2 separate regions of the Homo sapiens genome follow, and region 1 is linked to region 2. The links come from fine-mapping of genetic effects on gene expression. A gene starts in region 2. The other region holds a variant in brackets. All regions are shown on one strand. Distances are between the middles of the regions.

What was found. PIP is the estimated chance that this variant, and not a neighbour inherited with it, causes the effect.
Region 1: its variant is the best candidate, but not a certain one, in a credible set for the expression of COL25A1 in left ventricle (GTEx, PIP 0.83).

What each region holds. Positions count from the first base shown.
Region 1 is chr4:108,967,193-108,972,576 of GRCh38, reverse strand. All of the region lies in intron 8 of COL25A1 (collagen type XXV alpha 1 chain), which reads left to right. Among named protein-coding and RNA genes, the nearest start is that of ETNPPL, 210 kb to the right of the region's middle. RefSeq lists an enhancer at 2,186-2,355. The variant G/A (reference allele first, on the strand shown) is at 3,360.
Region 2 is chr4:109,299,444-109,304,827 of GRCh38, reverse strand. It overlaps COL25A1 (collagen type XXV alpha 1 chain), which reads left to right and starts at 2,170. Exons shown (of 38, transcript NM_198721.4): 1 at 2,170-2,659; 2 at 2,753-3,105; 3 at 4,176-4,245. The coding sequence starts at 2,809. COL25A1-DT (COL25A1 divergent transcript) reads right to left here and starts at 1,793. Exons shown (of 3, transcript NR_160939.1): 1 at 1,501-1,793. RefSeq lists an enhancer at 1,316-2,098.

The DNA.
Region 1 (5,384 bases), 330 kb after region 2:
GAAGGTAGAGGTGAAAGAGAATGAGAACCCACTGACTTGCCTGTCTTTTCTCAGATTCCAAGCAGGTCTCATTCAGTGCTCTTAGAATTTTGTAAACATTACTATCTAGTAAGATAGTATTAGCTACATATTAGGAAATTGATCATATCAAGATAGTAAGATGAAGGTTCTATATTTCAAAAAACATCAAAAGCAAGAACTGGAAAAGTTTCCAATTTTAATGAAAATTAATTTTACCCACATTCTCTATTTAGGCACGGTATTCTTGCTGATGATGACCAAAGGCTCTCTTTTTTTTAAATGTAGAGTTTGTATTCCAATACCCTGTCCATTTTCATCCTGTTGCAGATTTTGAATTACGCTTTTTACCATTTGTTTCCAATAGTTTATTTCTTCCCATAAATAACAATGTGAACTCCAAACTCCATCATGTCAGCTCTTTGTCAGGTGAATTTCCATCATGAGACCTATATCATTTTCTTGAATATTTGGAAGTTTTAACTCTTTGACTCCCCAAGTGTCCAGTGGGAATAAATTAAGCCATAAGAGGTAAATCGAAGCTGGAAAAACTTGAAGATCATATAGAAATTAAGAATGTGAGACTATTTTTAAGTACTTGGACATATATTCAGCAGTATATATTGAGCAGCTACCATCTTTAAGATACTGTGCTTAATACTATAGACACAATAAATGTGTCCACTTATCTCTCTCTTCTACTAACCACCAAATTCAACTTACTTTCATGTTCTTGATTACTTCAGTGGCTTTCCAATTAATCTTTCTATTTCCACTCTTAACCTTATATAATCCATTTTCTACACAGCAGGCAGAGAGATCACTTGACATTGTAAATTAGATCATGTTACTCCTGTGTAAAACTTTAGAATGAAATCCAACCTGCTGTGCTTAGCTCTTGCCCATCCCCACCAGTTCATCTCACACTAGTCTTGCCTCCACCTACAACACTCAGCCACACACTGTCCTCCATGTCCTCTTCAGACACACTGCACTTTCACCCAACTCGACAGCTTTCCATTTGCCCTCTTCTGGTCTTCTTGTGATTGGGTTCTTCTTATCATTGAAACTTCATCTCAAATATCACCTCCTCTGAGAGAACTTCTCTAACTACTCAATCTGAACCAGAGATTATTCTATCTTGTTTATGTATTTACTTGCTCATTATCTATAAAGTATGCCCCCCTCCCTCCTTAGGTCCTATATTCCATAAAAGCAAGGTTCTTCTCTGTCTTGTTCATACCCCTTCACATAGAATAGTGAAGATTCAATAAATATTTGTTGAATGTATGAATAAAATATTGTTATATCATTATGGCCCTCAAGAAGCTGATAATTTCATGGGTACCTGAGTAAGAAAACTGTGTGGTTATATGTTATATCCCTCAAATAGATATACCAAGAGGTGCTAGAAAAGTGAAAATTCTTTCATTTTAAATGAGCACTGTCAACTGTGGAAGAGGTGACACTTGAGCTAGAACTTGATAAATTGGTAATCTTTAGGAGGATACACTGAAGAGCAAGACAGTACATATTCCAGGAAGAGGAAATAGTATAAACAATATTATCCAAGTAGAAAATGGCAGGATTTAGTTAAGGAACAATAATATTCCATTTGTGATTTTTAAAAATGTGGTATACACAATGGAATACTATTTAACCTTAAAAAAGAAGGGAATCTTTTCATTTGCCAACAGCATGGATGAACCTGAAGGACATTATGTTAAGTGAAATAAGGCAGGTACAGAAAGATAAATAACTGCATGATCTCACTTATATGTGGAATTTTTAGAAGTTGAATACATAGAAGTAGAGCATTTAATGGTGGTGACCCATGGCTGGTGGGGAGGGTTTTAGGAGATGTTGGTCAAAGGATACAAACTTTCAGTTAGATAAGAGGAATAAGTTCAACAGATCTACTGTACAGCAACGTGACCACAGTTAATAACAATATATTGTATTCTTGAAAATTGCTGAGAGTACATTGTGTTCTCACCAAAAAAGATAAGGATGTGAGGTAATACAAATGTTAATTAGCCTGATATAGCCATCGCATGATGTATACATATTTCAAAACAACATATGTAACAGTATATATATAATTTGTATTTGTCAATTAAAAGTAAGTTTTAAAAAGGACCCTAAAAAATAATATTCCATTTGCCAATAAGTAGGTTAAGTAAAATATTGTGTCATATAGATGGAAAATTTTGGATTGAAGTTATATTATGGAGCATTTTGAATGTCTAGCGTGGTAGGCATTAGAGAGCCATTGAGAATTTTGAGTAATCTGTGCTTATCTTATTTTGAGACTATCTGTGCTTATTACCAAATGTTCTTTATAAAAATATTTTAGAGGCCAGATGCAGTGGCTCACCACTGTAATCACAGCACTTTGGGAGGCTGAGGTAGGCAGATCACCTGACATCAGGAGTTCGAGACCAGCCTGGCCATCATAGTGAAACCCCATCTCTACTAAAAATACAAAGAGTAGCCAGGCGTGGTGGCGAGTGCCTGTAATCCCAGCTACTTGGGAGGCTGAGGCAGGAGAATCACTTGAACCTGGTAGGTGGAGGTTGCAGTGAGCCAAGATAGCATGATTGCACTCCAGCCTGGGCAACAGAGTGAGACTTGGGCTCAAAACAATTATTTTATATATATATATTTGGTGGTAGCATCTGCTATAGAATACAATTGGAAGAGACTGAAAGCAGGGTGACCAAGTAGACCAGGAAACTATGTCACTCATTTAGGACAAAGTCATAAGAATCTAGGCTGTACAGACAATGTCCAGTCCTCAGTGGAGAGGTAAGCAGAACGGATGAGCTGACTTAGCATGGAACATCAGGTATCATTGGAGGCAAGGACACATACTGAGTAGAAAGGTCAGTGTCAGAGTAGAATTTCAGCGGGGGTTAGGGAGAGAGGTGGAGTGGGAGGTGGTAAGTTGATGAACCAAGAAAGAGATTCCAAAGTGGTCACCAAAATACGGACAAAAGCTCCAATTTCACCATGAAAGCTAGGATATGAGTTTATTATTCTCACATAAAAAGAAGTTTGGAGAAGGCAGTTGATAGTGTTATGTATATAATTAAATGGTGTTACTGTTGATTCAATGATGTTACTAAGTCTGTGAATCTCTTGGCCTTGTCTCATGATTGCAGGAAGCCTGCTTCAAGTCCAACCATTGCATCTAGGCGTATATCAGCAGGAAGGATAGAGAGGAAAGAGTCTGAATCAAGAAAGCAACATTTTCCCTATGAACTTCTTAGTAGACTTCTGGTCATGTCTCATTGGCTAGGTTGTGTCACACAGTCATCCAAAAGCTGGAAGGGACAAGG[G/A]GAATAGGGCTGAAAGGGAACTTAGGTCATCCAATCAATAAGGTTTACCCCAAGTGCCAAGCAAACACCTGAGTAGACAAAGAGGGAAATCAGGGCTGACACTGATAGAGGAGCATTTGGTGAGGGAGGAGTCTTGAGGACACTTGAACAAGTGTCCCTATTCAGCTGACACTGAGGACCTGTGACCCTGGAGTTGTAGTCAGGTTAAAGTTTTTTTAAAAAGCAGTCAGGAAGTGAAATGGAAAGACGCTGAGGTGAAAATTCAAGACCAGTCTTGAAGCCAGTTGGATGTAGGGGATGAAGTTGAAAAAGAAGACAAAGATAGGGCTAAAGTTTCTGGCTTGATGCTTGATAAAATAGGTCAGAAGAAAGTTGGGAGGATAAGTGAGAAGATGGATTTTAATTATGTTGAATTCGTGATCTTGATGAGATATTTCATTGGAATAGTGTAACAAACAGAAACATGAGACTAGAATTCTGAGGCAGTGCCATAACTGGAGGTAACTGTTACACAGCTGAACTATCACAGAGGGAGAATTGAAATCCTGGAATTAGAAACATGGTAGGCAAAAGAGTAAGAAGAGTACTGCCCTAGAATAGAGTCTTTAAAAATACTCACACTTACGGAGTGGGATGAGGAAGGAAGGAGTGTCAGCAAAAGGAGAGCATTTGAAGGTAGAAGCAGGACACTGCATTGTGTGAACACCACACACAAAACTACTTAAAAAAAAAAAAAAGAGTGGCCAATATAATATTCTGAATAAAAAGAGAGCCTCAGGGATGAGGTCTTTCAAAAGCCTTTGGATTTGCTGTTTTGGAGTCATGGGCTATTAAAGGAATATCTTTTGTTAAGTAGTGAGAGTGGAAGTCAGATTGCAAGAAGTTAAAAGGTAATGGTAGGAAAGTTGACCGTCTTTGAATACAGTTGATGGCATATGATTTAATGCAGGAGAAAGTGGGCTAACTTTTCGGCATTAACTTTCTTTCAGTATACATTGAACCAATTTCAGGCCTACAGTTTTAGGTGTAATATAATAACCACAAATATCATTTGGTTTTATTCTACGAGGCACTGAGTGTTAGATTTCCACAAATGAATGCATCCTGACATAAGAATTGTACTTCCCGCCTTGATTCCTGGGGAGATGTCATTGCAGATTTGCCACTAATCTTTAATTCATTCTTCCAAACACTGCATTTCATTAGGCCTTTAGGCTTAGGGTTGGGATGGTGCTTTATCTGTGCTGTCGGTCACCACGCATAGAGTATCCGGGCGTAAAGAGATAATTGATTCTCTTTATTTCATCCTCATAGCTTTGTATTGCAAAGTTTTGAGGCTATGACTTTACCTTGTATTTAAGTAGAGATTACACAACCTGCTGAAAGGAAGTTGTCGGGGATTCCTAGGTTGAATAAGAAAGTTGGACTAGGAAATAAGACCTCACATAATAATTATAATTGCCTATAGCTTAGTCTTACAACTTGCTGGATACTTTTCTAGGTAAGTTGCATACATCATCTCTAAGCCTTACTATAGTGCAGAGAGATAGATTATCAGGGAGGAAAACGGGAAAAGTGGATGCAGTTGAGTAAAATGATTATCCACATGGGCTGAAGTCAGGCTGGACAGGGATCAAATTCTAACTACCACTATCTATGATTATGATCAGGATTAATAAAGTAGTATATGAAAAAATCTGTAATAAGCTCTCAACAAACCATACCTGATTTTTCTTCCCATATTTCATATGAGGAATATGGGGTAAAGTAACTTGCCCAAGTTGACATAAATTGTAAGTGGTAGAAATGGGATTTAAACCTGGCTTTCTCAGCTTCTAGTTTGTTCTGTTTTCAGTGAACAAGACTGCTTCCCTATCAATAAGGTAGTTGTTATAAAGTCATCAACATTAATGTGAAATGATAGGGGTTACAGAAATATCTGTGTTTGAAATAATAACAATAAGGATACTTTAATTGAGTTCCTAAAATACGCCAATCACTCTATGATGTCACACCTTATTTCAA
Region 2 (5,384 bases):
AGGACAACCAGAATTATTGAAGGACTCTAAATAGATGAGGAGAGGAGGGCAAGGGAGAAGTCAGGGCCGGCAACTGGGTATTTTGGCTTGGGGAGACTGGATGGATGGCAACTCCATTGGCTGAGATGGGAAACAGAGGAAGCAGACAGAATTTGGAGGTAAGCTGCAGGTTACATTGGAAATGAGAGTGAGACATCCAAACGGAGATGACAAAGAGGCAACTGGCTATATGGATCTGAGGTTCAGGAGAGAGGTTTGGGCTTTTGATATGAATTTATGACTCATCAGTGTAATGGGAACTCTACTGGAGAGAGTATACAGAGAAGATGGAATAGACAGAGACCCAAGGAGCACCAACTTTCAGAGAAATGAAAGAGGAAAAGCCTGCAAATGAGACTAAGGAACAGCTAGAGGTTACAGAAAGAGTTTGTACATTAAAATATTTGTACCCATTATTTGGGTCCTGTTATTGGAAACATGTTTAATCACAATTAAATGTGACTTGAAATTTATCTGTTTTAAAATTTATTTAAAAACGTTGTTTATATTTAAAAGAGGAACAGTAAATCCTCACATCGCAGGGTTATGAGGTTCAAATACAAAAAGTATTTGAAAATATTTTGGAAAGTATTATACCAGTGGTTCTCAAACTTTAGTAGTATATATCAAAATCATTTGGAGGGCTTGTTAAAACACAGATTGCTGTTTTTTTTAAAATTATTATTTCAGTAGTGGTAGTAGCAGTTTCTGATTCAGATCTGTGGTAGGAACCTAGAATTTTAATGTCCAAGTTCTCAGGTGATGCTGATGTTATTGGTCTAGGACCATCCTTTGAGAACCACTGTGTAATACAAATGAATTATGGTTTTGACTTTATAGCCAAATTCATTGAGTTTTCCTCCAATGTTAGTCTCTTTCTTCCTCTAATGCTGTTATTTCCTTACCTTGCTTCACACCTAGCAATATCCGTTTACACATGTGAAAGACCAACTTAGTGAAGTATTTTGTTGACTGTTTACAATAGTAAGCAACGACTTCAGGTTAGCTTAATTAAGGAGAATAGGAAAAATATATGGTTTTTTTTTTTATAGGGAGATAAGAAGGAACTCTTTGGAATAAGAGGTGGGATTTCTGTTTTCCCCAAAGTCAATTAGATGTCAAATGCTACTTGTTACCAACTTTCCAAAATCCCATTAGAGACCTTGTAATTTGATCCAGAGAGAACAGCATTAAGAGTCAGGTAAAAGGAAAAACTGACTTCATTCTTCATTCCTTTCCTAAATCCTGAGAAATGTGTATACCTCAACACTCCCTTTTCCAATCCCGCAAAACAGGGAATCAGGAAAACACATTAGCACCCTAGTACAGACTAGGAATACAGAGCTGGGAGGAGACTCAGTGCCGTCAAGACAAGGAAACTGGGGGAGGGGAAGGAAAACTTCCCCTCGTTGGACAATCTGAGGGCTGCAGTGGGAAGAGAAGGGAAGTGGGGAAATGTACCTCAGACGTCGGCCAGACACTTTGCCTCTGGGCATGTGGGAAAGTGAGGGAGGAGGGAAAAGCGCTGCACCACAGCGAGATAGCAACAGCTCCTGCGGCTGCTTTTGAGTGAAGATCAGTAGAGATAGAGCGTGCCGCTTCACATCTTCCTCCCGGAGGCCATTTCTCCATTTTTATGTGGGATAAAAAGGGGGCGCTGGGCTGAGTCAGTATAAGCCAAAGTTGCCGCCTCTTGCGCAGCCGACCCCGCTTCGGCCCCGGCCCAGGCCAGAGAGGTGGCCCTCGGAGATGCTGAAGTTACTCCGCGCAGGGGGAGGGGTCGCCAGGCTCCTCTCCAATCACGGTGGCCGCTCCAGCTATTTGCATACATTATGCTAATAACAGACCTCCTGCCCCGCTCCCACCCAAGCTTCCCGCCTCCCTTGGGGGTTCCCCGGGCCGGCCCGCGGGCTGGGCCAAGGTGAATACATTATGATAATAAGGCGGGCTCCTGCTTTGCCTTCGGAAGGGGGGCGCGCAGCAGCGGGAGCGGCAGGCCGGACGCCGGGCGCCGGGAGGGGGTCGGGGGAGGGACGTCGTGCTCGGAGCGCGCGCGCACTCACACACTCACACACACACTCACGCGAGCATCGCGAAGGGTATTTAAGGATCGCGCACGCGGGGCTGCGGAGATCCTTCGGGCAGCCGCGACTTCGGCTTCGCGAGTAGCATTGGTTCCTTGGGTTTATTTCGTTTTCCTCTCTCTTCTCCACCTTAGTCGCCCCTTTCGCGCTGCGCTGTAGCGTGCTCTCACAGCCTTTTTGCCTTGAACTGAATGCAGGTGGGAAACAGGTCGGCGTGCCGAAAGACACCGAGTAGGTAGAAATAAGGCAAACTCACAGAGGCGCAACAGGTCCGGTCCTCCGTGGCCAGGGCGAGCCGCGGCCCCGCGTGGCGCCTCGGCCGTTGCCCTCGGACCCTGAGCGGCCACTGTTGGGGCCCTCGAAAGAGGTGTCGGTCCTCTGGGAGTCGGAAGAGCTGTCTGGGTGGGTTTCGTCTTGCTTTTTACCCCACCGCCACCCAGTCCCCGGACGGAGGGTGCTTTTCACTTCCAGCTGGGAGGAGAGAAGAAAGCGGGGATGGTGCACGCCTGCGGGTCTGGACGCTGAGCAAGGCAGGGGTCCGTATCCGCTCGTGGGCTTGACTCCACCAACTAGTTGTGCAGCCACAGGGACTGAACTTTGGAGGAATCGACCTTTTTCTTTCCTTTTAGGATTATTTGAGGTGTAGAGGGTGGGAAGCGAAGCCGAGACGGCCGACCCCGCCACGATGCTGCTGAAGAAGCACGCAGGGAAAGGAGGGGGCCGGGAGCCCAGATCCGAGGACCCGACCCCTGCCGAACAGCATTGTGCCCGGACCATGCCCCCGTGTGCCGTCCTGGCGGCCCTCCTGTCAGTGGTGGCCGTGGTGTCTTGCCTGTACCTGGGTGTGAAAACCAACGACCTCCAGGCGAGGATCGCCGCTCTCGAATCCGCCAAAGGGGCCCCTTCCATTCATCTGCTGCCTGATACCCTGGATCACCTCAAGACTATGGTGCAAGAGAAAGTGGAGCGACTTCTGGCTCAGGTGTGAGAGGCTGGGGTATTTTGCACGTGGGTAACATCTTGTACAAGCGTGACTCTGTGTGCATGACTAGCCGCTACCCTTACTGTACCCATACTTGGTGTGGCTGTGTGTGTGCGCGCGCGTGCATGTGTTGGCCAAGGATCTATGCTCACTGTAGCATATATTTATATGTGCACATCCCTTGATGTCCCCATCCCTATCTCTAATCTTCCCTCACTCTCTCTTAATGTTTGCGTGTTAAACACATAGGAAGGTCTAAAAGGGTTCGGAAAGGGCATTTTATCTCTTTTTAGTTGTCCTAAGTCAAACCCAATTGTGGAGAGAATATTTCTTGCAGAGATAGCATCTGTTAAATCTTTTACATGTTGTAAGATGGTTAGGGTCATAGATGTTATTAATATATAAAAAAGGTAATCACTCTTAAATGTAAAATAATGTCATATATAATTTAAAATCAATAATTTCACACGTTGAATCTTTTCATATTAAAAGTTTAAACTTTTTTTTTTTAAAGTAGCTTTATTTTTGGTAAAGGATGCAGTGCCGGGGTATTTATGAATGCAGAGCCCTTGGAATTGAGAGTTGAGAGGAATCTATGTTATGTGTAAGGGTACCTTTAGACTAGAGTAAGGGGGTTTTCTGGAACCTTACCCTAGCCGGGAGCCTATTTGGCAGTAGTTGCAGCCTAGCATGATAAATAAAGCAGTTGACCTTCATGTATAAAATATTGGCTGTTATTGGTAAGCCACAGCTTACCTAATACTGCAACATTTTAGTGCTAGGTTTTTACATTGACTGCATATGCTTGAGCTGAGGGAGAGAGTGGTGGTAGAGAAGAATGGAGAAAGATGTTATACAAGTCCAGCAATCTTGATACCCTATCAGTGGTCATTTTCTTTTTTTAGGACTTAGGCATGGTTACTTTCTTGACTAGAGTCCAAGTACATATGTAAATGTTAGTTATGCAGGTTATGAAATGCCGGTAAATCAGGCGTATGGCCAGAGTCCCTAAAGACTCCATCCCTCTACAGTGCTACTGATGATTATTAATAACTCTTCTTTTCCTACAGAAATCCTATGAACATATGGCTAAAATAAGAATCGCAAGAGAAGCACCTTCAGAATGTAACTGCCCAGCAGGTAAAATGGAACTTATTTAACAAGGTTTCCTCCAGAGCAGAGCATTTTAAAACAAAGGTCCTGTGTCTGTCAAGTCTACCTGTAATAATAGTAAAGAAAGAATGCAGACCCAACTTGCTTTAATAAAATCAACATGTCTCATTCAAAAGGATGGCAAATAAAGCCCCAAATATTATTTTAAGCAGCATACCAAGGCCTGTTATGGGAAAGCAAAGGATATAATCACCAAAGAAAATATAGGCAAGGTGATGTACAAGGACAAACTTCTTAGATTCACAGATTGAAAAATATTCTTCAATTAAATTGTCTTAATGTCTACAGTGAAAAGGACTGTAGAACTGTTAGATTCTGAATTCCTGGCTCGCTCTTATTGTGTTAGTGCAGAGTTTTTTTTTTTTTTTGTTTTGGTTTATTCCCTTTGGCATACGTTTATGTTAGTAAACCACCTTCACTTCCTTTCCTGCTGTTTCTGTTCTATTAAAAAGATTCCATCTCCTATCCTATAGCTAGAGATGATGACTGAAAGAAAATGATTTCTTTATCTTGAGCTTCCCATTACAAACTCTTGCATTCTCAGTGACTTTTGAAGAAGAGGCTCTTATATTTTTACCTTTTTTTCCTGTGTAGCTTCAGGGAACTATATTAAAGGCAGCATATTAGTAGAAGGACAGAGAAGAAGGACATCATGAATAAGACCCCTGGGTAATCATTAAATCTTCCTTCATGGACCTTTGAGGGCTTGGTAGATATCTTAGACCTAACAATTTAGAAGCCCTTGGAATATGGCCATTGGAAACATCTAGTGGATTCAACTCATGTAAGTCATGAAAAACTCCCATGAGTTGAGATGTTTATTTCAGATAAACATTGTTAATACATTTATGAACATGATAGTTTCTTTTATCATCACTCATGGAAAGTGAGTCTCTTAAAATTTCTTTAGTATTAAGCAACATGATACTTAGGTGCTTATATATGAAAAGGCAAGTTCTTGTATTTTTTCATATTCTGAAACGTTTCCCCCTCATGATAACTTGTTTTGGCAGAGCTACACAAGGCACCACATTTAGAAATTTTAAATGTCAACTCCAGGTTGTACCTTATACAAATTTTACTATTTATATTCTGTTAAATTTTTG